Regions from separate parts of the Homo sapiens genome. Here region 1 is linked to region 2. The links come from fine-mapping of genetic effects on gene expression. A gene starts in region 2. The other region holds a variant in brackets. All regions are shown on one strand. Distances are between the middles of the regions.

Region 1 (13,605 bases), 19 kb before region 2:
GCTCTTTACATCTCATTATTTGAGAAATGTCCTCTTTAACCCCAATTATAGGATGGGTATAGTTTCTGTATATCCTTCATTACTTTGTGTGTTCAGAAGATACCCTTTTGATCCTTTATTAAAGACTTGAAACAACTAGTATGCGAATGCTTTATTTTGAATTTTAATGCTGTGTTTTTTAATAGTTTTATTTTTCTTACGGCAGTTCTGTTGAGTGGAAATGTTAAATAATCTATTTCTAAAGAGAAATGATATTGAATTGGTCTTGATTTTTTAATATGCATGTAATGCTTATTGTGTGCCAAAGTACAAGTGCCTTATATACATCACTTTTTTGATCATCACACAAACATGTGAGATAGATACTCTATTCTCTACATTTTACAGATAAGGAAACTAAGGTAAACTAACACAGGAATAGAAAACCAAACACCACATGTTCTCACTCGTAAGTGAGAGTTGAACAGTGAGAACACATGGACACAGGGAGGGAAACATCACATACCTGGGCCTGTCGGGGGATGGGGGGAAGGGGAGGGAGAGCAATAGGGCAAATACCCGATGCATACGGGGCTTAAAACCTAGATGATGGGTTGATAGGTGCAGCAAACCACCATGGCACATGTGTACCTATGTAACAAACCTGCACGTTCTGCACATGTATCCCAGAACTTAAGGTAAAAAAAAAAAAAAAAAAAAAAAAGAAACCTAAGTTAGTAAGAAATTAAGTCTCTACCCAGGGATATGTAGTAGAAAGTGGTAGGATTGGGGTTTGAACCCAGGCAGTTTTGACTCTATCATGTAGCTTCTTAATGATTATATTATACTGTCCCCCAAGTTGTATACTAATTGCTTCTATTATGTTTCCAGTTTTATATAGACCCATATAAGCTGCTGCCACTGCAGAGGTTTTTACCTCGACCTCCAGGTGAGAAAGGACCTCCAAGAGGTGGTGGCAGGGGAGGCCGAGGAGGAGGAAGAGGAGGAGGTGGCAGAGGTGGTGGCAGAGGCGGTAAGTTACTTGGGGAAAATTTCTAATGAAATTAACTGTGACTTTCACAGCTAATTCATACAATACAATTTAGCTTTGTACATAGCAAACCTCCCTTATGGTTCTTTTTATTAAAGCTGCTTTCCAATATTGGCAGATTGTCCATAATAATAATGCTTCATTTCAACAACTTACTTAAAAAGAAGAAAATCTACTAAAGTATACTTTTGAGGGACTTCATTTCTTTGGGTTATTCATGTTTTCTTGGACATTTTAATAAACCGTAAGATTATCTTAATTTTAATTCCTTAGTTAATATTATTGAGTGTAGACTGCATGCTGAAAGCTGGTCATACATTCTTTTAATTTCCATGTATATATTTTTAATACTCAGCGAAACCTTTTGAGATAGATGATATCCTTATTTTATGAATGAGGAAACGGAGACTTACAGAAATTAATTTGCCCCAATCAAACAATTGGCAGACCCAAGAATTAAAATGCATATCTTCTGATGTCATGTCAAGAACTATTACTAATAAATTCATTACTGTGATCTCACTGTTGTGATGTATGCCTTTCCCCCAAGGTTTTGGGGTATTTTGATGTATGCCTGTTTTGATGTATGCCTTTCCCCTAAGGTTTGGGCACATTCATCATTATGGACAGCTAGGTGATGAGCAGGGCTCTGGGGAGTGGGGCTGCCATGCCCTGTGAGTAGGAGAAGGGCGAGTGATGGGGTGATGGGCAGAGCCAAAGTGGAAAGGGAGAGGAGCTGAAAGTTGGGCTTGGACAGCTTTTGTTACTGGATCAGAAAAAGAGAAGGAACGCCTCACTTTTGGCGTTTCTCAATTTAATCACCATTTCACTCCATAAAGGTATTTTTTTGTGTCCATATAGGTAGGAAAATTCTCAGGGGTACCTTCTTGAGAATTTGATGAACAGAGATTCCCCTATTCTCATGTTATGTTGAGTATCATTTAACATTTCAAAAAATTCACAGCTGTCTTATTTTTTTAAAATCTTACTTATGTAGCTCAGTTAATCTTAACTATCATATTTATTATCTTACCCCCAGAGCAAAAGCACCCATATCTGCCACCCTTTGTTGTTAGGATAAAAAGCCACAGTTCCATCAAACTATCCTTAGTTGAATCAAAAAAGTATTTATCATAAGCAAGAGCTAAGGCAATAGTCATACATTTAACAAGACTGAATCATACTTTAACAAGTTTTTCTAATTTATTGAAATGGAATAATCTGGGGTTTTAGCCTGTTGCCCAGTTGGTAAACTACTACAGTTTCTCCATTTTTATCTTCTAAAATTTTTTCCCTGATAAAATATGTGAATCTATATTTATTCATTATAATTATAGTTATTGTATTGATCTTTTTAGGCTTATCAATATAAGAGGTTATACAGTTAATAACTTAATGATTATTATATTCTATTGTTATTTAAATACTTTGCGTTATTATTTAATAAATGTTTTTTAGGTGGTTTTAGAGGTGGAAGAGGAGGTGGAGGTGGGGGCTTCAGAGGAGGAAGAGGTGGTGGTTTCAGAGGTGAGTATTTTAAAAAGTCTTTAAATTGCTTAATGTTTAAAATTGATATTATCTGGCATTTTCTGTTTTTACTTAAGTTTAATTTTCTCTGCCAGCAAGTATATAGAACACCATGGTGTTCTTTGCTTAGCCTAATTTGTGGTTTCATTTTATATCACTTTTTTTTTGCCTTTTCTTTTCAATTTTTTCACCTAATTCTAATTTGTTTTGCTTTATTATTAATTTGAAAAATAAAGGTGTAATATGAATGACAGTTAAATTTGGTAAAGTATGTTTGCTAAACATTATTGGAACTAATGCTGATTTTAAACTTGAGATTTAGGTTATAATACTATTAAAAATCCATTTTCTGTGCCCTTAATACTTTAATTTTCTCTTAATCAGGGAGAGGACATTAAGTGAAACAGTTGACAGACATCACCAGTTGACTTCTGCATTAACCTGCATGATCTGTTTCTACTATGGATTGGAAACTTGTTTCTTGAACAAGTCTTGAAGATCTTGGTCATTTTATGACAATGGATCTAAAATGTCAGCATCATGCAAAGTGCAACGGAATAGTGAATTTTGCTCTAAAAGAGCATGAACAAGTCTTTCTAATGTTTTGTACAGTGCCTGGCACTCTGTGGGTGCTCAATAAATGGATAGGAGTTTTCATTTGAAG[C/G]ATATTTGAATTTTTAAAATAAAGTGTTTTATTCCCTTAAGTTATTTAGAGTGTGTTTATTAAATGAAACCCATTTTTTAAAGTAGAAAGGAATAACTAAAGCTTAAACCCAGTGAATTGCAGATCGAAAAAAGGATTTGTTTATTTATATTACTGATCTTTTAAAAAATAGACTACTGTAGCAGTACTTTAAGATAATTTACAAGTTGACACTGCCTTTCAAAACCCTGGCCTTTTATGTATGAGAAGATAGCTTTGTATTTGCCTTTTGTATTTTAATACATAAATCAGTTAAGCTGTTTCTCTAATTGCAATTAATAATTGATTTAAAAATTTTCCATATTAGTAATGTATTAAAGATGCAGTAGCTCTGTTGAAGTGAAAACTATAGCAAGAAATTTCTAAAGTTAATTTTTCTCATCCAACATAAATGGAATATTAGAAGTTTTACTGAATGTTATTTTATTTTTACTTTTTTAAAGGGACTCTAAAAGTTTAAGGTGTTATTTACTACACGTAAATATTCGTGTAGTATACTACACGAATTCGATTGCATACTACATGTTCAGATTGCTGGGTAAGGATGTTAGAAATGAAATTGGTTTTGGTCACCATTGCTAGTGGATGTAAAGAAATGACTGTGGTAGCAAGTTAGAATGCCATGATATGGAGCCATTTACCCTGCCATTCATTTTTCACTTCTCAAAAGGAATGATGTTTCTATATCGTTTGTTAAATTTTCTAACATGCCCATGGAGGAACGCTCTTGAATGCTCATTTGAGGAGCATACAGTGTTGTCTTTGTCAGTATTTGGGGTTTTATCTTTTTCTGATTGATGGAATTGCAGCAGGATGAATAAATACATAGGCCATTAATATATATGATGAGCAAATGTGTTGAAAATTACAGTTTTTACAGGAATAGGCAGTTATGCTTTTACAGCTTAGGACAGGAGATTATTTGATTTGGAATTGTGGTGATGAAATTTTCATGGAGTGTTAGGGCCAGGGCTTTTGCTCGTGGTTTGGAAAAGATGTTAGTAAGCACCAAAGGGTGATGGCATTGTCCCAAGGACAAATAATAATAGCGCAACATTTCTACAGTTTGTTTTTTTAACATTAAAAATAAATCTAAAATGGCAATAATGGAAATAACATATAGATCAGTAGACAAACCAGTTGGAAATTTTACCGTTTAGCTTATGTATATCTTTTTTTCATTGTCCATCTTTAAGCTTTTATTTCCACATCTTTTCCTTTTTTTTCCTTATAGTTTCTGGGTTTATTTATTTGTTTATTTATTATTATTATTTTTTGAGACGGAGTTTTGTTCTTGTTGCCCAGGCTGGAGTGCAATGGTGCAATGTCGGCTCACTGCAACCTCTACCTCCCGGGTTCAAGCGATTCTCCTGCCTCAGCCTCCCAAGTAGCTGGGATTACAGGCATGCGCCACCATGCCCGGCTAATTTTGTATTTTTAGTAGAGATGGGGTTTCTCCATGTTGGTCAGGCTGGTCTCGAATTCCTGACCTCAGGTGATCCGCCTGCTTTGGCCTCCCAAAGTGCTGGGATTACAGGTGTGAGCCACTGCGCCTGGCCTAGTTTCTGGGTTTTTTTGAGGCATTTCATTTTGAATCAAATTCACATGTATTTCTAAGCCTTATCCCAATATAGCTTTTCTGTATCACCCATGAAGGAAGCATAAAAAAGAACTTCAAATGCACCTACCTCACTCATATCAAAACTTTCATCTGCAGCAGAAAGCTGACTATCTGAAATTATATATTTTTCAGTTCTTAGAAATAATTATTTCTGGAAAATTTTTCATGGATGCTACAACTAGGTATAACTTATTACAGAAAAGGAAGGTAGTATGACCCAAAGCAAATTCAAAAATTTTAAGTTTTGTTTTGCATATTGAATGAAAGAAAAGACAAAGACTTTTTAAAGGGAGTGATTTCCTCTTGGGTATTATGTTTTTTGCTCTAGGGTCATTTGAAAACAATACTGACGAGATTCGCTTTTCTAGTATAGGTATAACAATATTACATTTATAAAAATGTGAGTACTGGTAGCTATAAGATTTGGGACAGATAAATCAACCTGTTCATCTTGAGTTTATACACAGGCAAGAGAACTGAAGCAAAAGGATTATCTTAGGTTTCTGCTGTGCCATTCTAGGATTTTTATAAAATTAAACTAAGTGGGTAAATATAGCCCTCTAGTGGTTCTGTTTTATGCTTACACTGTTAACTTTGGTGCATCTAAGCATTTCTCTAATGTTTACTGATTTTAGGAAACTGAGGAGAATCAGATTTTAATAATGTTAATGGCATAAAGAATATGGGAAAAAAGGTAATAGGGATACCTTATTATTCTAACAAAACATGCTCAGGTTGGTTTTCAGGTTGTAATGTGATAATCCAGAATATTTTTATTCTGTACTTTACAATATCAGTGATTGAATTCAGATACTCTGGCAAAGTATACAATGATTACTATCATCAGATAATATTAATTACTCATGTGCATATCAAACTATAGGGGAAATTAACGGATGGTGGAGTTGATCATATTATATCCATGCTATGAAATACATAGCTACTAATAAATTAGACTTTATTAGATTCTGGGTTTATTAACTTGGATATTATAATACAGCCTTATGGGAAAACAAGTTGCATTATATATATACATTTGTACTTATTTTTTTCCCTCATTTTTATTTACAAGAAGAAAGTGGAGGAAACCTGAAACACTTGTATGAATATGTGTATAAGCAGAGAAAAGCCTAAGAAAGGATATGCACCAAACAATACTGGTACCTTTAGGAGAGTGAGATTTGGAAGTAGGAAGGAGACTACTTCTTTGTCACTAATATTTAAATTGTTAAGAAAAAAAAAACAACAAAAGGAGCCGAAATGGAAAGACTTGAATGGTCAACAGAAAACAGGGACCTTAATCCGAATAGTTTTAGAGGACTAAGGCTGGCTCCTATACTGATTTCCTGAGTTTGTTTATTGTTAAATGGGATGTGTGTGCTTGATAATCTCCTTAGATAGAAGACTGATGCCCAAATAGGTTAAAATGTGTGGTGCTTGGTATTTCTTTTTGTTTTGCTAATAAGCTTTTCCCTTATTCTGGGAATTAAAGTCCTTTCCTCTTTAGCCCAATTAAATTTGTTAAGGGAGGGCCTCTATGAAAAGGCCCTTCTTTGAGGTCTCTAAGTGGAAATGATTGGTCCTAAAAAATCTTTCCTCAGTAGCTCATAAAGCAGTTCATAATTATCGAAGGCTTATTATGAAGGGTGTTTCGGTATCTTCCCTCCAAAATGCTAAGAAATAATTTAGGCAACAGTTCAGACTCTAAAAATGAAGATGGCTCGGTCTTTTCACAGACTGAACACAATATTGTTGCAACTTACTTGATTATGGCAGGTATGGATATTTAAGTAAGTTATTTTTCTTTAGAATGGGTGAAGAAAGGCAGAAGTTTTCAGCATAAGGCATGCATTGTTTCAAGTTCCATATTATTGGCCAACCTTGACAAGTCATTTATCCTGACTTGGCTTGCTCGTTGGTAAATGAGGATGATGATACTCTATTTCTGGGCTGTAAAGATCAAATAAGATAATGTGGGTGAAAGAATAAGGGAAAGCATTGTTAGTGATGGCCATTGCCACAGGTTATTTTGAATTTTGGTAAATAAGAGCAGTGAAGTGGGGCTGAGAAAAGTTTTCTATGTGATAAATAGTTCTTTCATAAAAATCTATGTATTTGATTATTGGATTGTTAAAGTTTTTATTGGAGAAGAGTATGCACCATGGCAAAAACATATTTTTATGTCATTTACTATTCTTATACATAACCCTCATATTTTTGTTCTTGGTGGTAGAATTTAGCTAAGAACTTAAAGGTTCTGGAAAGAAAAAGTCCTAAGAAGACAGAGCAGGGTATATTGTCATTGAGGACAGAGTCTGAAAATTCAGCTTGTTCCAGAATGCTTATTGGAAAACTCTTGAGTTTTGGATTTCATCTTTTAGTATATTTGCAACTGTGAGCATGTATCTTCCCTTTTTGTTCTTCCATTTTCTCATCTGTAAAACAAGGATAAGAATAAGTTATCTGTCATGATTGTTATAAGGAGTAAAATTAAGTGACACATAAATGCCATATAGTAGGTGTTGGACAAATATTTGTTTCTTTTTCCCTTTCCTCCCTACACACTCATTGATGTAAAGGATTGTTTGCAGAAAAAAAGGGATGGGGGAATGACAGAAACTTTTTATCTTTTTAATGTATCATTGAATTGTGTAACTTTTATATTGAGCAATCACTTAATTTTCAACTTTATACTCTAACGAGTTGTAGAAGTAACTCTTATATTGAGTTCATTATTTTTTGGATTGACTTTTATAAAAATTTTCAAACATTCAAAAGTAGAGTGAAAAGTATAACACACCATCCTATACCCAGTTTATAATTGTTTACGTTTCTTCCTTATAATTCAGCGTATTACTTCTAGTACTGGAAATTGAGTTCCTCAGTTAAGTTTTGCGATTTTAGTGACGTTATCTCGTTCATTTGAATACCTCTATGATAAGTACTAGACAAGTTCTAGTTTTTTTGTAATTGCAAAAAAGACTGAGAAAATCTCCTAACAATTACATGGAAATACTTTGTATACAAGTGTTTGGTTTAGTTAGTTATTTGTAGATGACCAAAAAAAAAAAAAATCCAAAAAACAACCAAAACTATCCTTTTTTGACCTGGTTACAAAATTAGCATGCAGAAAATATTCTATTTAGTTCTTATCTCTGTAACAGTAATAATAATAGTAATCTTACTACTACTGCTACTAATGTTATCATTTGAATACTTGCTATATACCAAGCACTGTTCTAAAACCTTACACATACAGAATAATTCATCCTTACACTAATTTAGTAAGTTACTCTTCAGTTTTATTTCTCTAGTTTATACAGATGAAGAGCTTAAGAAACTTGTCCAGCACACACATTTACTAAGCAGCTACACCAGGATTTGAACCCAGGCATTTTGGTTCTAGAGCCCTCACATATAAATCCAAGAGTCAGCTTTATCAAGGTATACAATGAGTGTGTGTTGTTTGTGTTTCTGGTGGATCCACTGAAGGAAGCATAGCTGAACTCTTTATGCTTTTGTTCTGCCCCTGTATCAAGCATCTATTTTTCTTTAGATCCCCTAACTTTCCTCCTTTAACAAAACTCACTTAAAGTTGCAAATCAAAACCAAAACTATGAGGAAAGGGTGTAGTGAAAGCATTTATTTCATTCGTTACTTTTACCAAGGGCCTATTTAGATTTTTTATTTAATTTTTAATTTGATCTTTCATTTATAGTTTGGCTCCTATAAACTGTTACAACTTCCAGTGCAACAGACATTTTGTTAATTTAGTGTCCTTGAGCACTCTCCCTTTCCCCAGTTAAGGCTGGGAGGTAAGAGGACATGGTGAATTTGAGGATCTGAAATAAATCATTATGTTTGAACTGTAAAATGAAGGGTGAGAGGTTGAAAAAGATGGCTGAGTACCAGACAGTGATGAGCCGTGTAAGTTTTAAAGGTGACAGGGAGTCACTGAAGGGTTTGAAATGGGAGTGACATGATCTGATTTGTGTTTTAGAAATGTGCTATAGTGGTAGCTAAGGGACCACATAGGAGGCCATTGCAGTGATTCTGAGGAGGGAGTAATCGCAGTGGGGACAGAAAAAAGTAGATACATTCAAGAGCCAGAAGGTGGAATTGATGATTGGATGTTGGGATTGTGGGAGAAGGAGAGAAGTATCAAAGATGATGCCTAGGTTTCTTTTTTGAGCCACTGAATAGATGGTGATGCTCTTCATCAGATGGGAACACACCTGGGGAAGAACAGGTTTGAGGCAGGAGAAAAAGTCTCTCAGTTCAGTTTGAGAGGTGTCCAATAAAAAGCTGGACACATGGGTTTGAGTGTCCGGAGGCTGAAAAATATCAGGGTATAGCCTTGGGTATGAAGAAATTACTCAGAGTATGTGTTAAATGTGAAAAGAAAGGGATCTAGGACAGAAGGTTGGACAATGCACATATTTAATAAGACATAGATGGAGAAAGAAAGGCCAGGAAGTAGATCAAGAAGGGTCTGTTGAAGAGATTGCACGGAAGTCACGGAAGACAAGAAGGAAAATGTTTCAAGAGTGAAGGAGAAATCAACATCAAGTGCTACTTAGTGTTTAGACTGACTGTGAAATGGGACTTAACTAAAATCTAACAACTAGGTGATCTTTTGTATACTCATTAGAAGACCTACAGCTGTGGAAACAAGGCAGTGTGCTTGGTACAGCTGCAGAGAGAATAGAGAAAAGGGCTAAACTGTTTAGTTCATAACCCCCATTATTTCTAAGACTCCCAGAATTATAGTTCCTTTATTCTGGTTGCGTACTTGGTAGGCAGCAATTTACTGCACTGTTTTTATCTAACTTTAAAAAGTCATTGAATTTGTAGCTAGCCCAGAAAGAGTCTTCATTTCATTAAATTCTTCGGAGTATATCTTGTATACATGCTACAATCCTAGATGCTAAAAATAGGGCCAAAGAATCATCAAATTTGCTGTCATTGTGTGCTAATTATCTTGAAGGAATGATAGAAATTAAGCAATATGGGTTTTAGTTGTAGCCCACTTATTAAATAAATCTGCTGTATGTCACGTATTCAAAAACCACAGAAATCATGAGGAGCCTGAAATCCACATGAAAAGACAAGGAAAAGTAACAGTTAAATTATATAGTGTTACATAAGACTCAGTTAATCATAAGCAAGTAGTTTGGAAATTTAGGGAGGAGAGGATAGTGTGGGTAGGATAAGGCTTAGGGGCTTGAACTGAAGTTTGAAGGATGGATGGCATTTGGATAGGAAAAGAGAAGGAGCAGGGTGCTCCAAGTGGGAGAAATATGAGTCAAGCATGGTGTATCTGGGCAAAAACTAGAATGGAGAGTTCACTTGACAAGTGTAGAAATTTGCTTCTAGAGAGTGACAACAGATGAGGCAAAGAGCCTGGAATATCAGGTTGGGAAATTTGGATTGTTATCCCACAGCCAGTGGGAAATACTACAAGTTTTCGGGAGGAGAAGAACCATGGTTAAGTCTATGTTATAGCAAGCTGATTCTGCCAGAAGCAAGGAGAGGAAAAGAACAGGAATCTGGAAGGTTAGTTTAACAGGCTAAGGCAGAAGTTCTGACTGAAGTGCCAAGATATGTTAAAAGTTTTTACTGAGCTGATGTTGTATGTTGGTGCTTGGAAACTGTCCCTCTCTGACAATAGTTGGGGATTGATCACCAAGTAATTCTTTTCTTGATGGGGAACTCAACTCTATTCCTGCTTGTTGCACAACCCTCCTTTAGTCTCTAACAATCCAGTAATGATTCTAGCTTCTTGGATGAAATCTACTCACACCCCACCCCCTCACACCCCTTTAGGATCTAGTATGCCCATATCTGGCTTATGCCCTTTACAGCATGTAGGGGATGTTGAACATGCACATCCAGTACACTCGACAGTATTTCTCAGTGTAAAATAAAACAGTGGCATTCTGGTTAATAAGTTTAGTTATCTGTCTACCTCAGTGCAACCAATCTGGGGCACTGACAACACTGAGGTTCTGGAAACTTGATTTCCAGAAACTTGATTAAGGTGGTATCAGCTGTGAGGCTTCTCTATGGACCAAAAAGCTGGCTCAACTTCCTCTCTGGATAGTCAAGTCTTGTAGTATGCATTCTTCTATTGGGGTAGTGTGTGTGTGTGTGTGTGTGTGTGTGTGTGTGTGTGTTGGAATGAAGAATTTGGACATGTTGAGTTTCAAGAAATACTGGAATAGTCATATGAGCTTACATATGGTAGATGCTTAGTAAACGACAATGAGTTCAATGAAAAAAGAAGATATGGAACTGGAGCTTGTGTCATGGCTGAAAATAGTGACAAAAGTGCTGTGAGGATAGAATGATAATTGAAGCTTGAGAAAGGCAACTATCGAAAAAGAAGAGCCCCAGGCCCCAGGAAGGAAGAGGAGGAAGTTAAGCTGACAAAAAGAGGGCATGGTCAGTCATATATTTGTCCTAAAAATCAGTAGGAATGGTATGAAAGCCAATGAAGGAGTTTCAAGGACAGAACACTCAATAGCAATGACATTAAAACCAACGTTCAGTGCTGCCTTGTGCAATTACCAGATTCTTTGTGTTTTAATTTTCTCATTTCTGTTTCACAGAAGGGATGTGAAGATGTCACATACAGTTTTAAGAACAGCAGGAGCTCTTCAAATAAATGAACTAAAATAGATCTGTTATGTTTTTAAAGGGGCTTAAATATTTAATTTTGAGTCTACTTTGAAACATTCAAATTAAACAAAATGCATCATATTTTTGTGTGTGTTCTCAGGTATGATAAGTATTATCAGCAACATAATAGTTCTGGGCATCTTCATTAAGTACAAGGAACTTCGGACACCCACAAATGCAATTATTATTAACCTGGCTGTTACTGATATAGGGGTCAGTAGCATTGGCTATCCCATGTCTGCTGCCTCAGATCTGTATGGAAGTTGGAAATTTGGATACGCAGGCTGTCAGGTATTGGAGATCATTGGAATGAAAGCAAAATAAATAGATCAAATAAATGTAAATTTAAATGTCTAAAACGAATCCCAAGAGTTTAAATTGAATATTGTAGAATAATAGATACAGTGCTTTTATGGAAAACAACAGAAGTGACTAGGAATATATTCTTTAATAAGAGAAATTAAATCACCAACCATTGTTATATTTTCAAAATTCTCCCAACTCAAAGGAAGAAACAAACAAAATAACTAGCATTCAACCAAAGGAGAAGAGTGCTGATTTGCATATTCAAATAAATATTTGCATATTGCAAATTAAAAAAAATAACCTGCTTTCATCTGAAACAATAAAGTAGTGATTTAATCATAATATTATGGAAGATAGTTAAGCTACCATGTTGTTGAATTTTTTCCTATAGAAAGTCCTCCATAAGAATTGTTACTAAATGTTATTTTTTAGTAAAAAGGAAATGAGTTAATATTAATTTGCCTTAAGACAGTAAGCAAATATTACTTTTAGGCTAATTCTTTTAGCAGTTTACTATCATAACCTAAAAACTATAGAGAATAAAATGAAAGTAGTAGTGAATACTGAATAACCACGTAAGTACCAACCAGTTTTGTTAAATCTTAATGTTTCGCAATCTGTGCTTCAGATTGTTTTTCTTTTTAAAGATATAAAACTATACAGATAATGATGAAGGCCACCGCATGCCATCTTCAATCTTATTCCTCCCATGAATGTTTTTCTCTCTAATATATGTGCACATAAACCAGATACTGTCTGAATACTTCAGGTTTTGTGTAAATGATATCATATTGTTTGCATTATGCGATTTCCTTTCATTGTTAGATATTATGTTTTTGAGGTTTATCCATGTTGATGGATATGACTGTAAGTCATTCATTTTAACTGCTATATAATATTCCATTTTGTGAACGTAGAAAGCCCAATGTACATTTTCATTTTACTCTTATTGGACCTTTGTTGCCATTTTTTTTCTTTTCCTTTTTTTTTTTTTTTTTTATTTGAGATGGAGTCACGCTCCGTTGCCCAGGCTGGAGTGCAGTGGCGTGATCTCCGCTCACTGCAAGCTCTGCCTTCTGGGTTCACACCATTCTCCTGCCTCAGCCTCCCGAGTAGCTGGGACTACAGGTGCCTGCCACCAAGCCTGGCTAATTTTTTTTTTTGTATTTTTTTTTTTTTTAGTAATGACGGAGTTTCATCGTGTTAGCCAGGATGGTCTCGATCTCCTGACCTCATGATCCTCCCACCTCGGCCTCCCAAAGTGCTGGGATTACAGGCATGAGCCACTGCGCCCGGACCCCCATTTTTTTTTCTGTCACAGATAAGGCTTCAGTAAATGTTCTTACATATGTCTCCTTCTGCAATATGTGAGTTTCTTTAGCCACATTGCTTAGGAGTGGAATGGTTAAGTTGTAGAGAATGTTCATCTTCAACTTTATCAGAAGTAGCCAAATTGCTGTCCAAAATAGTTATTCAGATTATGAGAACATCTATTACTCCACATTCTCCTTAACATTTGGGATTGTCAGACTTTTAAATTTTCATTTTCTTGAGTGTGAAATGCCATCTTATAATCAGTATTTCTTTGAATATTTATTGTGGTTGTATGTCTTATGTTATAAACATTCAAATGCTAATGGGCTTGTGTGAATACCCCGTTCATCATCTGGCCATTTTTCTATTGAGTTTGTCTTTTCCTCCTGTTGAATTACCCATCTTCTGAATACTAGTCTTTTG
Region 2 (16,559 bases):
AAACCATTTTTTTTAAATTTCCAACTTTTATTTTAAGTTCAGGGGTACATGTGCATGACGTGTAGGTTTGTTACATAGGTAAACGTGTGCCATGGTGGTTTGCTGCACAGACTATCCAGGTATTAAGCCCAGCATCCATTAGCTGTTCTTCCTGATCCTCTCCCTCCTCCCTCCCTCTACCCTTCAACAAGCCCCAGTGTGTGTTGCTTCCGCTGTGTGTCCATGTGTTCTCATCATTTAGCTCCCACTTATAAGTGAGAACATAAGGTATTTGGTTTTCTGTTCCTGCATTAGTTTGCTAAAGATAATGGCCTCCAGCTCCATCGATGTCCCTGCAAAGGACATGATCTCATTCCTTTATGGCTGTATGGTATTCCATGGTGTATATGTACCACATTTTCTTTATCCAGTCTATCATTGATGAGAATTTAGGTTAATTCCATGTCATGTCCATGATTGCTATTGTGAATAGTGCTGCAATAAACATACATGTGCATGTGTCTTTATAATACAATGATTTATATTCCTTTGGGTATATACTCAGTAAAAGAATTGGTGGGACAAATGGTATTTCTGTCTCTAGGTCTTTGAGGAATTGCCACACACAATCTTCCACAATGGTTGAACTAAGTTATACTCCCATCAAGAGTGTAAAAGTGTTTTTTTCCCACAACCTCACCAGCATCTGTTATTTTTTGACTTTTTATTAGCAGCTATTCTGACTGGTATGAGATTGTATCTCATTGTGGTTTTGATTTGCATTTCTCTCATGATCAGTGATGAGCTTTTTTTTTTTCATGTTTCTTGGCTGCATGTATGTCTTCTTTTGAGAAATGCCTGTTCATGTCCCTTGCCCACTTTTTAATGGGGTTGCTTGTTTTTGTCTTATAAATTTGTTTAAGTTCCTTGTAGATGCTGGATATTAGACCTTTGTCAGATGCACAGATTGCAAAAATTTTCTCCCATTCTGTCGGTTGTCTGTTTACTCTGTTTATAGTTTCTTTTGCTGTGTAGAAGCTCTTTAGTTTAATTAGATCCTATTTGTCAACTTTTGCTTCTGTTGCAATTGCTTTTGGCATCTTCATCATGAAATCTTTGCCTGTGCCTATGTCCTGAATGGTATTGCCTGGGTTCTCTTCTTGAGTTAAAAACCATTTTTATTGATAAAACAGCTATTTTATACTCTATTCTCTCCTTGTTTTATGGATGTATATCTCCTGTTATTTCTGTGATATTATGTATATATTTATACTTCCTTCTGTTTACCACATATTTTTGTTTCCCCTGAGTTCTTGCACTGTTTTTTTTTTTTTCTTTGCCTGTCAATGTAAAAGTTTTCTTAATGTCTGGTGGTCAGTGATTGTCCCTTCATACTTAAGAGTAATGCATTAAAAATGTTGATTGTAAGCATGGAGATGCTCATTAGCAAGATGTTTCTTTTGGGGGAATTTCTAATTGTCTCTGTAGTTATTATTACTATTATGACCACCATCATCATTATTATTATTTGCTCTCACTGTGATTATCTGCTAATCAAAAAAATTTTTTTTCTAACTTCCAAACTCAATCTGGAAACAAATACAATCCTATCTTGAGCTCAGTGAATTCTAGCACAGGCCATTTCTGCTGGATATATATTACACATGATGCAGATAATTTTGTAAAGGAGCTCTCTTGTATCTTGTTTAAATGGAAAAATTATATTTTTCATGTTGCTCCCTCCTGATTGCCTGCTAAAATGATGGAATGGAGGTTTGGGGGAATTTCTAACTGTCTAGGTAACTATATCTTTAGGTATTTTATTCTGGGCAGATCAGTTCCTTTCATGTTCCTGGGTGGGAGGCACAAGTCTATCTCCAAGTTTTTTCACACTCAGTGCAGGGAGGGAGCAGCATACAGGTACCCCTCTTTTCAATACAGTACTGAAGTGCTTAGCTGAACCTGGTGTCCCTGTGTTCTGAGTTTCCCAAATTAGCCTTCTTTTTTCTTTATACTGAGCCTCTGGAAGTCTTCTAGGGAGAGGAAGGGGAAGTTACTGAGTAGACTGAGTGGACAGGGGTAAAGATTTGGAAGTCTACTTTCTTTGTAGATTTCAACCAGTTCTATTTTGAGCTCCATGTGCACCCCCACATCTAGAGTTTTCTGGTACCCTTTGTTACTAGAATTTCTGTAGCTCTGTAGTATGGATTGGTCTGTATCTGGTTTTCCCTCATAGTTGGCTCTTTTTAACGTTTATTTATTTACTTATTTATAAAATTATTCTCATGTTTCTTACATAATTTGCCACTTATCCAATGGCCATTTTTTCCATTAAAAATATGTATTATCTAATCTCTGATTCTCTGTCCTTATGGTTTTATGTCTTCTTTAACCTCTGTTCCATAATTTTAGCAGGCAATCTAGGGAAGCAATATAAAAATATAATTTTTCCATTTAAACAAGATGCAAGAGATCTCCTTTACAAAATTGTCTGCATTGTGTGTAACATATATCCAGCAGAAATGGCCTGTGTTAGAATTCACTGAGCTCAAGATAGGATTGTATTTGTTTCCAGATTGAGTTTAGAAAGTTAGAAAGTTACTTTTGTTAATTTAGCAGGTAATCCCAGTAAGAGCAAATAATAATGATGGTGATAATAATAATAATAGCCATGCCAGGAGTTCATAGCATAATGATGTGAAGTGGGGTGGGGTGGGTTTTTATCTGTCTTTCATCAAAGTCAGCTTTTGTACTCTCCCCTAGCACGCAGAAAGAAAGAGGGCATTCCTTATGTGTGTGTACCATTCTTAAAAGCAATGTTATATATTCTTGATATACCCATTTCACAAGGTCTTATTATCATCGAGGACTTCAGGCACTTGAAAAAAGAACATTGAAGGCAGAAAAAAAACTCAACTATTTCCTTTATGTCATCAAAAACATAAACATATTCAAATTCCAACCCAGATAGATTTTTACCCAACTTTAGATATATTAATATTTAAATATTTTAGGTATTGGGCTTGGTGAATATTTATTTCTTTTCAGATGTCTGTGATCATGATCTGCATGTTTCTGGTGGCATGGTCCCCTTATTCCATCGTGTGCTTATGGGCTTCTTTTGGTGACCCAAAGAAGATTCCTCCCCCCATGGCCATCATAGCTCCACTGTTTGCAAAATCTTCTACATTCTATAACCCCTGCATTTATGTGGTTGCTAATAAAAAGTAAGTAATGTCTAAAATGCTTGCAGTACAAAATAAAACTGATATAAAAAGAATGTTAAGACTTCTTGGGAGAGAAGTGACAGAAACCCACTTCAATCTAGCATAAAGGTCATTTGCCTCATGTGACTGGAGCAGCATCTAGGACCTTAAATGCTTAGAGCTCCAGATTTGTTACAGACTCTTCCCACACAGTGGCAGAGATGATTGTGGGCAACCCCAGACCCAAGTTCTACCAGCTAAGCATCCCCAAATGCCAATTGCATCTCAGATGGCTCTCTGGCAGAAAAGAGCCTGGGATGTCAGTGGTCAGCTTAGTTCAAATGGTTACCCCCACCCCAAATACATGGAATAGTGGTTTCCAAAGAAAAGAGGGATTCTATAACTGGAAAATGGACAAGGCAACATTGGGCTCACTTGGTGGGTAGCACAGATGTATATTTACAAGAAATAAGACATATCATTCAAATGCAAGGGAAAAGTTTAGTCCCAACATAAAAGGCATCTGGATACTAGAGAATTCTTACCTCCTCTCTTTTTTGGGTTTCTTAGCAAAATGTTCCTTTTCTGCCTCCTCAGTGAAGTTTAGACGGAGTCTCTCTCTGTCACCCAGGCTGGAGTGCAGTGGTGTGATCTCAGCTCACTGCAACCTCTGCCTCCAGGTTCAAGCAATTCCCTGCCTCAGCCTCCCGAGTAGCTGGGATTACAGGTGCCCGCCACCACACCCGGCTAATTTTTGTATTTTTAGTAGAGATGGGGTTTCACCATCTTGGCCAGGCTCGTCTTGAACTCCTGACCTCGTGATCCGCCCGCCTCGGCCTCCCAAAGCGCTGGGATTACAGGCGTGAGCCACCGCGTCCAGCCGAGGTCAGGTAATTTTATCCTGGAATGGCAATGTTTGGAAAAGCAGCTTTAGCTACAGGTATGTGAAGAAACATAAAATTTTACAGACCAAACAGACCACATAAGAAGAATGAAGAACACATTTTAAATTCAGAATCTGCTGGTAGTTCTTTTGGAAAATTCTTGCTAGGAAGAACAGATGGATGAAATACACATTGTTAGTTCAAATAAACAACTCATGGCACTTGACATTAGTAGCATCCTTTTAAATACATATAATTATTTACTTTTAGTAGATGTCTTCAATCTGTAGAATCAACAGTGCAAAATTGACCTTTAACTGTACCATATACCTTATATATTTATAAAGTTTCTCAACAGGAAATCTATAGAATCAATAGTGCAAAATGGGCTTTAACTGTACCATATACTTTATATATTTATAAAGGTTCTCAACAGGACATGTTAAAGTTGGAGGCAGAAATTTATCCAGAGATGTAAATTGGCAGTAGTGGCATCTTAGCCATATTTGAAAATGCTTTAGAAGTTCCAAATCATTATGGGTTAATGCCAGATTTTCCTTTTTTTATCGTAGGTTTCGGAGGGCAATGCTTGCCATGTTCAAATGTCAGACTCACCAAACAATGCCTGTGACAAGTATTTTACCCATGGATGTATCTCAAAACCCATTGGCTTCTGGAAGAATCTGAAATAAGATAAAAGGACACACTATCAAAACACTTTAGTTTTTTGACAATGCTTTTCTTTTAAATATGAGCCCATTTAGATCAAGTGCAGACATGGATCATTGTCCTATGAGAGTGTAAGCTCCTCAAGCACAGCTCGTGCTTCTGTTTGTGCACTCTGGCTGCTGTAGTGTATGCTTCTCTGTGTCCTGATATATCAACTTATTGCTCATCTCCTTTGATGAATTAGGCATCAGAGGTTAAGGTCCCCTTTCTTTCTCCCTATTATGGCATGCATTACACTGTACTGATGACCTTTAACTTGCCTGGCTCCTCCATTAGAATAAAAGCAGTCACTAATTTAATGTTAGAATAAATGAATAATTCTAGATAATTACTGAAATGAGTTGTTGGATGTTCCCAGTTAGAATAGAAAGCATTTTTTGAATTTCAACATTTTAACATTTAAATCAATTAACTTATGTTATTAAACAAAAATAAATGAACATTAAACATGATTGTTTCTAAATAAAATGTTAAGTCAATGCATATATATTATATAGCATTATGACCCCTGTGCATATTTTGATGTTTTCTGCAATTTTGAGTACCATTTTTCTGCATATATATTCCATATATTTGCCAACAGAGTTAACTTCAATCAGAGTGGAGATTTTTATATGTTTGTTCTTTGATGTATCCTTAGCACATATACCCAATTCTGTCTGGCATGTAGTAGGCACTCAATAAATATTTTTTCAATGTCAAATGAATTTGTAGACTTCACATATTTGTCATTCTAAATGACTGTTAAGCATAATACAATATACCATTGTTTAAATAGTAGACATTTAAATTGCTTTCCAGTTTTTAGTTTCATGGATATACCACTGAAAATATTTCAGTGCAAATATATTTTTTCTTTTGGAGAAGTTATTCTATTTGAGTGTTTCTTTTCAGACTAGAAATACTGGATACAAATACAAAAACACTATTATTTTTGCTAGCTTGCTTTATGGAAAGATTGAATTAGTTTTCACTGATACTGGCAGTGTCTAAGTGAGCTTTTCACTGCATATTCCTGCTCATAGTCCTGTATATATTTAAATTATGAGTTATATACTCTAACTTAAAGTCATTTTATTTCACATTTCTTTAACTGCTAGTGAGGCTGTGTATCTTTGCATATTGTATTTTTTAATCTCTATTTTTTCTTCCTATAAATTGTCTCTTTAGCACCTTTGGCTACATATTAAGTAAAATACAGGTATTAGTTTTATGTGTACAGTCTTCTACGTATATGGAAAGGTAAACTGTCATAGTAATCTACCTTATCTCCTAACTCTCTGACTTTCCCACTGCAATCAATTCATACAATACAACCTCAATCAATACAATTTCATAGCTAATCTTTTAAAAATAAAGTTCCAATGCCCAAATTCTTTGGCTAAAAACCTTCACTCACCCACCAAGTAAGTATAAACCCCTCAGCTGGATTTTCAAGGCCCTCTTTAACATACTTCAAGAGGGACTTTTCAGCTTTTTGTCTCTCTTCATGGCCAAATTAAAATGTCTAGTGTTCCGAGAGAGCTCTGAATGCTTTGTGTCACTAGGTCTTCGCTCATCCTGTCTATCATAGCCGAGCCTTTTTACAGGGAAAGCATAGTGAAATCTGCACCCAAAGTCCCAGAGCCATTAAAAGGCCAGGACAACTTCTGTAATAATGTCTAGAAAAATGGACTCAGAGTTCCAATTTGCAAGGCTGTGAACTCATTTCCAGCGATAAGCAAGAAGCAACTTTGCCTCAAATATAAAGGACTTCAACAGTGTACAGTAATTATATTTCAATGCTATATTATTTATTTTTTAATTTGCTTATATGATAAAACTAGGAAGACCTGGCTTTGGTTACATAGTTCCCTCTGACCTCTTAGTTTGCTAATTTCTGATGTTTTTATCTTTAAACAGCGTTTCTATGCTCAATTTGGCACGTCTTGCTTCCATGTAAGTCATAACATCCATGAAATTAATGATTCAAAAACCCTTGGTCACTTGGCGATCAGAGCTTTACCCATCCAATTTCTTTTTCCTCTTGTGCTCAAAAACTCGAGGCCACCACCTCTCACTGCATCTCCAGCACTGGGAAACCTTAGGGTTGTTTTTAAATCCCTTCTTCATCCTTACGTCTAATCAATCATTTCTCTCTCCTGGGTGTTTCCTGAAGCTGCATTATCCTAACGATTACTAGCACAGCAGTCAAGGCTGTAGCCTAATGGCTGCTCACCTGGACTATAACCACAGACATCCACCTGAAGCCTCCTCCTTTCTTCTTGCTTGCTCTATCTAGAAGCTTCCTCCTTTCTTCTTGCTTGCTCTGTCTAAACCTTTTCTCCACACAGCCGCCAGAGAATTCTTCCTGAAAGGATAAGCTGATATGCCACTCCCAAGCCTAACTTTTATTGCTCCCATTGCCTGTAGGCTGAGAGTAAGCTCTCCATAGGGAATCTAAGGGTTTCCTTGATAACTTCATCCCCGCTTATCTCTCCAGCTTTATCTTTTTTAACTTCCTGCCTCAAAATCTTATGCCTGAGCAACAAGAAGTGCTTGAAATTCTCTGAGGACAATACACTGTTTCTCACTTCCCTCCCTTTGTTCCCACTATTCCCTTTGCTTGCAATGCAACTTTCTGGATTTTCCCATAATACATCGTCATGCACCCTGTAAAAGGCAGCCAGGCACCACCCACCCTAGGAAGTCTTGCTTGACTAACACAGGCTGGGTTTGATGCTCTTTTCTCGTGCTTCTTTAGTAGTCTGTTCCTCCCTTTATCGTGTGAGTTCCTTATGTGTAATAACTGTCTTATTTATCTTTGTACCCCTCAATGCTCAGCAGAGAATAAGTACTCAGTAAATATTTGATGAACAAACGAGTTGTGCAGAATCTGAAAACCTGCAGTATTTTATTTTAATTGAGCACAGTTTTTCAGACTGTATGGTTTTTATATACATTCTATTGGTTTTAAATAACATTTTCTATAATATGCTTATTTTTATAGAATTAATTTTCTTTTAAAAAGGTTTTTAGTTAAAGAGGATGGTTAGAAGCAGCCACTAAGAAGGTTAAATGACGTATATTTATTACTTAAATCCTTGATTGTCCCTGTGGATTCTCCACTCTATGAGTGTGGAGATACTTTTAAATTTAATTACATTTAATTTTTATTTTCTGACAGAGCCTAATATAGCTGAAAGAATTAGAGTTGATCTTCAAATATGGCTTTGATGCTGATAACTTGGGAAACTATTGAACAGAGATAGTTGCCTGCATTAAAAATAAATGTGCTGGGATAAACCTTCCACACACTGAGATGACCTGGAAGAGTCTCAGAACACGTTCTTATTGGAGAACTTAGTCCTGCCACATCAGTAGTGGATTGAAGCATTTTCCCTATAAAATCTGTGTAACTGACTTGTTTTACTTTACTTTTAGAGATAGCCAGTATGTGGCAACATCGATAACTCTTTTCTAAATCATTTTTATGTCATGTGCTTCTATTTTTAAAACTAAATTTTGTAAAACTGAATTAGTAACACATTCTGGCAAAAACCAAATGCAAAACATTTTATAATGTTGTAACATGTAAATAATCTACAGAATTTTCTTGCATCTGCCAAGACTGAATTATTTTACATTAAGTATATTTTTAAGGTGTAGTGGCAAGTACATCCAGAAGAAAGGGATTTAATAGGCATTTTCTTGCAAATCTAGTTACGGGTAACTATTGAAATTGCTTGTCATGTGTTTGATTTTCATTTTCCTTAGAATGTGTTACTTTGCTGAAACTGTATTCAAAGGCTGGATCAATTGATCTCCTGCAAGATACACTTGAAGGTTAAGTAACTACAGATCTCAGCTAATCCCGTGTAATCTGCTGTTACTAAATGGCTGTTTGTATTCCAGGCATACCAGGTTCTGAATGCTTAGGATTCGGTTTTTACCTTTTGTTTAAATAACCTCTAAAAGGAGCAATGCATCTCTTTGCATGTCTGTGCATTGTCCTTAGCTTTTTGGAAGGAGTGGGCTGTTTGTGTCCTTCACAGTGCACCTGTGATTATCACGGCAGAAATGACGGCTCAGGATCAAGGTATGCTCCTCTGCTTGTTACTAAGTGTTCTCATTATTTTGACAAAAAGGACCCAAACAAGAAAGCCTACTTTTGAAAGCAAATGTTTGGGGATCAGAAATCACAGAAGAGAATGTTTAGTGTCCATAAGCTTTAACTTAATTGTTTTAACACTGGTCACCTACTCCTTCACTGTTTTCGTTTTGAGCAGTTTAACTCTCAAAGGCCTCTCAAGGTATTGGAAATTTCTAAACACATTCTATGTTCCAAAATTTTTATTATGCTCATGTTCACAAATTGTTGCTTGAGATCAAACGATTTAAAGGTGCATGGCCAGCTAAGCCCTTGATTATAGAAAGGCTAAGAGGGCAGGCTGAACAGGAGCTGCGTGACATGCTCAGATCCTTTGCTTTCATGGCTCTCCACTTCCTTTGAGAACTATTCATGCCAATTGAATGGCAGAAAGAAAGATCTCAAGAGTGAAGTTAGAGAGGTTAATAGTTAGAATTTTTCATTTTAAGCTGATGGAATTTACAAAATAAAGAAGATTGAAAAAGATACTGTCTGTTTCAGACACTGCAGGATCTCACAGAAGTTATTCAATCTCTAGGTTGCTTTAGCATCTACTTGTGTAGTGAGAAGAGTTATTTACTTATATTGTGCATGAGGCCTTTTAGATATGTTAAATGCAAAACAGAACTCTTGCTAGCTAAACACAGTAGAACTTGAATTTTTTTTTTGAGAGGTTATTTAATAACAAAATCAGGTTATTTGTGACTTGGTTGAAGTAAACGGTGTCTCAGATAAAATAATTTGTTAAAAGAGTTGCCCAATTTATGTCTTATAACTTTAAACAAATAAATAATAATAAATAAGACATATTTGTGAAAAGCTTATCTTGTTATTGTATAAACTTTAGTTAACCAATTCTTGGTATTTTTTGAGATATTCACTGGGTGGTTAAAGACAATGAAGAGAATGTAGCAAGTTAAAGACCTACTTGTCCAGGGACGTGTAGCAGTGAAGGATCAGGCCAGGGTACTTTTGAGAAACTATCACAGAAATGTTTCCTTCTTTGTGGTGACCCCATTATTGATGGATTTTATAAAAATTATAGAATATTAGGCCTGGCAAGAAATAATCTAGTTCAACCCCTTGTCAGTTTATAAGTGAAGAAACTAAACTGTATGGAGACCAAATGACTTGTCCTAGATCATATAATTGTGTTGATGTAGTAACTAAGTTCATAAAGATGCTAGATCTTTTAGCGTACAAACTAGACTTTCTTCTATGATAGCATGCTGAGATACTTATTTTATTTATTTATTTATTTTGAGACAGAGTCTCACTTTGTCAGCCAGGCTGGAGTGCAGTGGCACAATCTCGGCTCACTGCAACCTCCATCTCCCGGGCTCAAGCAATTCTCCTGCCTCAGCCTCCCAAGGAGCTGGGATTACAGGCGTGTGCCACCATGCCCAGCTAGTTTTTGTATTTTTAGTAGAGATGGGGTTTCATCATGTTGGCCAGGCTGGTCTCAAACTCCTGACCTCAGGTAATCCACGCACCTCGGCCTCCCAAAGTGCTGGGATTACAGGCGTGAGCCACCGCACCCGGCCAATACTTTCTTAATGAGTAGAAACTGCTACCATTCTGGTATAAAGTAGTACTGAAATCTGTGATATAAAATAGAGATGAAAAGTAAGAGATATCCCTAGAGGATTTCAAAGATTCCATGAGGTCTTTTCCTGAAGTTATAGAAAGGACATAACACTACCACTACATTGCAGCTTTATGCTGCTTACGTGTGTATACATTATGAGCTGGTTTTTCAAATCCACTGATTTAATGTCATATGTTTCACTAAAGGGTTATTTTATTGTAATTATTTACTAAATTTATAGTGTGCTATAATTTAGATGATACTTTGCAAAACTTCTTATTGTTCATTTTTCATAATTCAGATGAGTATCTCATAGGAGATAAGTCTTTTTCCAGGCTAAAATGAATCTAAATTCTCAGATTCCTCATACTTTAAATTTACACATGGGACAGTGTTGTCTTCCTTCCTTCCTTCCTTCCTTCCTTCCTTCCTTCCTTCCTTCCTTCCTTCCTTCCTTCCTTCCTTCCTTTCTTTCTTTCTTTCTTTCTTTCTTTCTTTCTTTCTTTCTTTCTTTCTTTCTTTCTTTCTTTTCTATTTTGAGATGGAGTCTCGCTCTGTCACCCAGGCTGGAGTGCAGTGGCGTGATCTTGGCTGACTGCAACCTCTGCCTCCCAGGTTCAAGCGATTCTCCCACCTCCGCCTCCTGAGTAGGTAGGATTACAGGTACCTACCACCGCGCCTGGCTAATTTTTGTATTTTTAGTGGAGTCGGGGTTTCGTCATGTTGGCCAGGCTGGTCTCAAACATCTGACCTCAGGTGATCTGCCCACCTTGACCTCCCAAAGTGCTGGGATTACAGCCATGAGCCACATTGCCCAGCTGGGACATTGCCCAGTGTTGTTTTTCTATGCCTGTTTTATATGTGCCAACAAACAAGATCAAAATGTGACTTGCTCAAGGTCAACTCCTAATTTCTGGTTTATTCCTTAGGCAGAAAGCAATGTGCAAGTCACGTTATTAAAACAGAGTTCAACTTTAAACATGTACTGTGAACACTTTTTTTTTTCACCTAAATAAATTATTCTCTGAACAAGGATTGATTTATTATTTTAACAGGGGGTTCTTTTAAAATGGGCCATTTCCTAAAGAGGTGCACTTTAAGTTGGACAGAAGTGGTTTTGAAAGGTGGCTGTGAAACCCACTAGCTGGGTGACCTTGGAAAGTTACTGAATGTTGGTGGGCCTCAGTTACTTTCCATGTAAAACCGAGGTTGTTGACAGTAGCAGCAAATACCTACTGAGTACCTATTCTGTGCCAGGAAGTTGTAGAGTTTTACATCCATTGTAATTAATCATCCATAACAGTGCCATATGGGAAAATGAGGTTGAGACACTGGTGAAGTGGTTTTCCATGGCCACAGAGGAGGTGGCAAACCTTAGACCTTGGTTAGATTTGAACCAAGGCCCTCCTCGGCCTCCCAAAGTGCTGGGATTACAGGCGTGAGCCACTGCCCAGCTGAAAATTGATACATTTTTCAAATGAGAAGTATTTTTTTCAAATGGGTGTTGGAAAGTGAGTTTCCTCACATTGTTCATGTTGTGACACTAGGTTGGTGCTATGTAATGACATGGATATGAACGAGCTGCCTACGAACCTCCCCGTGGACACTGTGAAGCTTCGCATAGAGAAGACTGTCATCCGCAGAATCTCTGCGGAGGCCTTCTATTACCTGGTGGAGCTCCAGTATCTCTGGGTGACTTACAATTCCGTGGCCAGCATTGACCCCAGCAGCTTTTACAACCTGAAGCAACTGCATGAGTTGCGCTTGGATGGGAATTCTCTGGCTGCTTTCCCTTGGGCATCTCTGCTGGACATGCCCCTTCTGAGGACCCTGGACTTGCACAATAACAAAATAACCAGTGTGCCAAATGAGGCGCTCAGGTATCTGAAGAACCTTGCCTACTTGGATTTATCAAGCAACAGACTCACCACATTGCCACCAGATTTCCTGGAGAGCTGGACTCATTTAGTTTCAACACCTTCTGGAGTCCTGGACCTTTCCCCAAGCAGGATTATTCTTGGTAAGCTCGCAAGCCTCTGGGCTTTTCATCTATAGTTACTTTGCTATGCATAGCTTTTTTTGTCCAGTCTTTTAAAATTTGTTGGATTTGGCTTTTTACTCTGTAATTGCACTTTTACTGGAATAGTACCTTATTAGTTAACCTAGGTCAAGTTACCCTTTCTCCTGTGTAAGGTGTAAGAGCTGTGTGTGTGTGCATGCATGTGTGTACATACATGTGTGGAAAAGTGGAGAAGAACTTGCATCATAAATGGAGAGAGGACCATTTCTCTTAAAGAGCATCCAGCTGAGAGACAGAATCAACCAACTGCATAGACTCTTGTGAGCACAGCATTGCTCCATACTCTGGTACAAAGTTCTGCTCAGTTTGCTTTTCAACTCTTCATTAGGTTCTTCAGGAGCAGGAGAGGGGCACTGGCATCTTTATGCGATAGCAGTGGCTTCATTAGTTAGGAAGAATAGCTTCTAAATTTCCTTAATCTAAAAAGAAATGGTGGAAACACCAGTTATTTTACTGGCCCCAAATGGTTCTCCTAACTGATTTGGTCTCTTAGTTTAGCTGTGACTAGTTTTGGAATTTTGAACTTGGTCTTGTTTAGGTTCTATGTGTATTTCTCTGGTTCTTTTTATTATTATTATTATTATACTTTATGTGCAGAACTTGTAGGTTTGTTACATAGGTATAAACATGCCATGGTGGCTTGCTGCACCCATCAACTTGTCATCTACATTAGGTATTTCTCCTAATGCTATCCCTCCCCTAGACCCCTACCCCACAACAGGCCCCAGTGTGTGATGTTCCCCTCCCTGTGTCCATGTGTTCTCATTTTTCAACTCCCACTTATGAGTGAGAACATGCAGTGTTTGGTTTTCTGTTTCTGTGTTAGTTTGCTGAGAATGATGGTTTCCACTTTCATTCATGTCCCTGCAAAGGACATGAACTCATGCTTTTTATGGCTGCATAGTATTCCATGGTGTGTACATGGCACATTTTCTTTATGCAGTCTATCACTGATGGGCATTTGGTTCGAAGTCTTTGCTATTGTGAATAGTGCTGCAATAAACATACATGTGCATGTGTCTTTATACTAGAATGATTTATAATCCTTTGGGTATATACCCAGTAATGAGATTGCTGGGTCAAATGGTATTTCTGGTTCTAGGTCCTTGAGGAATTGCCACACTGTCTTCCACAATGATTGAACTAATTTATACTCCCACCAACAGTGTAAAAACGTTCCTATTTCTCCACATCCTCTCCAGCGTCTGTTGTTTCCTGACTTTTTAATGATCGCCATTCTAACTGGCATGAGATTACATCTCATTGTGGTTTTGATTTGCATTTCTCTAATAACCAGTGATGATGAGCTTTTTTTTCATATGTTTGTTGGTTGCATAAATGTCTTCTTTTGAGAAGTGTCTGTTCATATCCTCTGCCCACTTTTTGATGGAGTTGTTTGTTTTTCTTTTTTCTTGTAAATTTGTTTAAGTTCCTTGTAGATTCTGGATATTATCCCTTTGTCAGGTGGATAGATTGCAAACATTTTCTCCCATTCTGTAGGTTGTCTGTTCATCACTTTGATGATAGTTTCTTTTGCTGTGCAGAAGTTCTTTAGTTTAATTAGATCCCATTTGTCAATTTTGGCTTTTGTTGCCATTGCTTTTTGGTGTTTTAGTCATGAAGTCTTTACCCATGCCTATGTCCTGAATGGTATTGCCTAGGTTTTCTTCTAGGGTTTTTTATGATTTTAGGTCTTACATTTAAGTCTTTAATCCATCTTGAGTTAATAAGGTGTAAGGAAAGGGTGCAGTTTCAGTTTTCTGCATATGGCTAGCCAGTTTTCCCAACCCCATTTATTAAATAGAGAATCCTTTCCCCATTGCTTGTTTTGTCAGGTTTGTCAAAGATCAGATGGTTGTAAATGTGTGGTGTTATTTCTGAGACCTCTGTTCTGTTCCATTTGTCTATATATCTGTTTTGGTATCAGTACTGTGCTGTTTTGGTTACTGTAGCCTTGTAGTATATTTTGAAGTCAGGTAGCGTGATGCCTCCAGCTTTGTTTTTTGCTTAGGACTGTCTTGGCTATATGGGCTCTTTTTTGGTCCCATATGAAATTTAAAGTAGTAGTTTTTCCTAATTCTGTGAAGAAAGTCAATGGTAGCTTGATGGGGTTAGCATTGAATCTATAAATTACTTTGGGCAGTATGGCCATTTTCACAATATTGATTCTTCCTATCCATGAGCATGGAATGTTTTTCCATTTGTTTATATCTTCTTTTATTTCCTTGAGCAGTGGTTTTTAGTTCTCCTTAAAGAGATCCTTCACATCCCTTGTTAATTGTATTCCTAGGTATTTTATTCTCTTTTTACCAATTGTGAATGGGAATTCACTCATGATTTGGCTCTGTTTGTCTATTATTGGTGTATAGAAATGCTTGTGATTTTAGCACATTGATTTTGTATCCTGAGACTTTGCTGAAGTTGCTTTTCAGCTTTGGCTAAGATGATGGGGTTTTCTAAATATACAATCATGTCATCTGCAAACAGAGACAATTTGACTTCCTCTCTTCCTATTTGAATACCCTTTATTTCTTTTGCCTGATTGCCCTGGCCAGAGCTTCCAATACTGTGTTGAATAGGAGTGGTGAGAGAGGACATCCTTGTCTTGTGCCGGTTTTCAGAGGGAATGCTTCCAGCTTTTGCCCATTCAGTATGATATTGGCTGTGGGTTTGTCGTAAATAGCTCATATTATTTTGAGATACATTCCATCAATACCTAGTTTATTGAGAGTTTTTAGCATGAAAGGGTGTTGAATTTTATAGAAGGCCTTTTCTGCGACTATTGAGATAATCATGTGCTTTTTGTCACTGGTTCTGTTTATGTGATGGATTACATTTATTGATTTGCATATGTTGAACAAGCGTTGCATCCCAGGGATGAAGCCAACTTGATTGTGGTGGATAAGCTTTTTGATGTGCTGCTGGATTCAGTTTTCCAGTATTTTATTGAGGATTTTCATGTCAATGTTCATCAGGGATATTGGCCTGAAATTTTCTTTTTTTGTGGTGTCTCTGCCAGGTTTTGGTAGCAGGATGATGCTGGCCTCATAAAATGAATTCCTGTTTTTCTTTTTTTCTTTCTTTGTACCTCTGGTACCTCTGGTAGAATTCAGCTGTGAATCCATCTGGTCCTGGGCTGTTTTTGGTTGGTAGGCTATTTAATTACTGCCTCAATTTCAGAACTTGTTATTTGTCTATTCAGGGATTCAACTTCTTCCTGGTTTAGTATTGGGAGGGTGTATGTGTCCAGGAATTTATCCATTTCTTCTAGATTTTCTAGTTTATTTGTGTAGAGGTGTTTATAGTATTCTCTGATGGTAGTTTGTATTTCTTTGGGATCAGTGGTTATATCCCTTTATCATTTTTTATTGAGTCTATTTGATTCTTCTCTCTTTTCTTCTTTATTAGTCTTGCTAGCGGTCTATCAATTTTGTTGATCCTTTCAAAAAACCAGCTCCTGGATTCACTGATATTTTGAAGGGTTTTTTCTGTCTCTATCTCCTTCAGTTCTGCTCTGATCTTAGTAATTTCTTGCCTTCTGCTAGCTTTTGAATGTGTTTGCTCTTGCTTCTCTAGTTCTTTTAATTGTGATGTTAGGGTGTCAATTTTAGATCTTTCCTGCTTTCTCTTGTGGGCATGTAGTGCTATAAATTTCGCTCTACACACTGCTTTAAATGTGTCCCAGAGATTCTGGTATGTTCTGTCTTTGTTCTCATTGGTTTCAAAGAACATCTTTATTTCTGCCTTCATTTTGTTATGTACCCTGTAGTCATTAAGGAGCAGGTTGTCCAGTTTCCATGTAGTTGAGTGGTTTTGAGTGAGTTTCTTAATCCTGAGTTCTAGTTTGATTGCACTGTAGTCTGAGAGACAGTTTGTATGCCTTCACCCTAAAGAGGCCTAGAAGAGCTGTGGCAAGATGAGGGCGTTTATAGCCCTATCTTATCCATATGAACAGGCACCCCTC

Evidence for each region.
Region 1: its variant is fine-mapped to the expression of LRIT3 in whole blood (TOPMed, PIP above 0.99).

Annotation. Positions count from the first base shown.
Region 1 is chr4:109,821,477-109,835,081 of GRCh38, forward strand. It overlaps GAR1 (GAR1 ribonucleoprotein), which reads left to right. Exons shown (of 7, transcript NM_018983.4): 5 at 871-1,012; 6 at 2,489-2,557; 7 at 2,942-3,261. The coding sequence ends at 2,955. RRH (retinal pigment epithelium-derived rhodopsin homolog) reads left to right here and starts at 6,496. Exons shown (of 7, transcript NM_006583.5): 1 at 6,496-6,657; 2 at 11,663-11,853. The coding sequence starts at 6,552. The variant C/G (reference allele first, on the strand shown) is at 3,222.
Region 2 is chr4:109,839,442-109,856,000 of GRCh38, forward strand. LRIT3 (leucine rich repeat, Ig-like and transmembrane domains 3) reads left to right here and starts at 8,666. Exons shown (of 4, transcript NM_198506.5): 1 at 8,666-8,876; 2 at 12,063-12,535. The coding sequence starts at 8,761. It overlaps RRH (retinal pigment epithelium-derived rhodopsin homolog), which reads left to right. Exons shown (of 7, transcript NM_006583.5): 6 at 3,028-3,206; 7 at 4,642-5,501. The coding sequence ends at 4,756.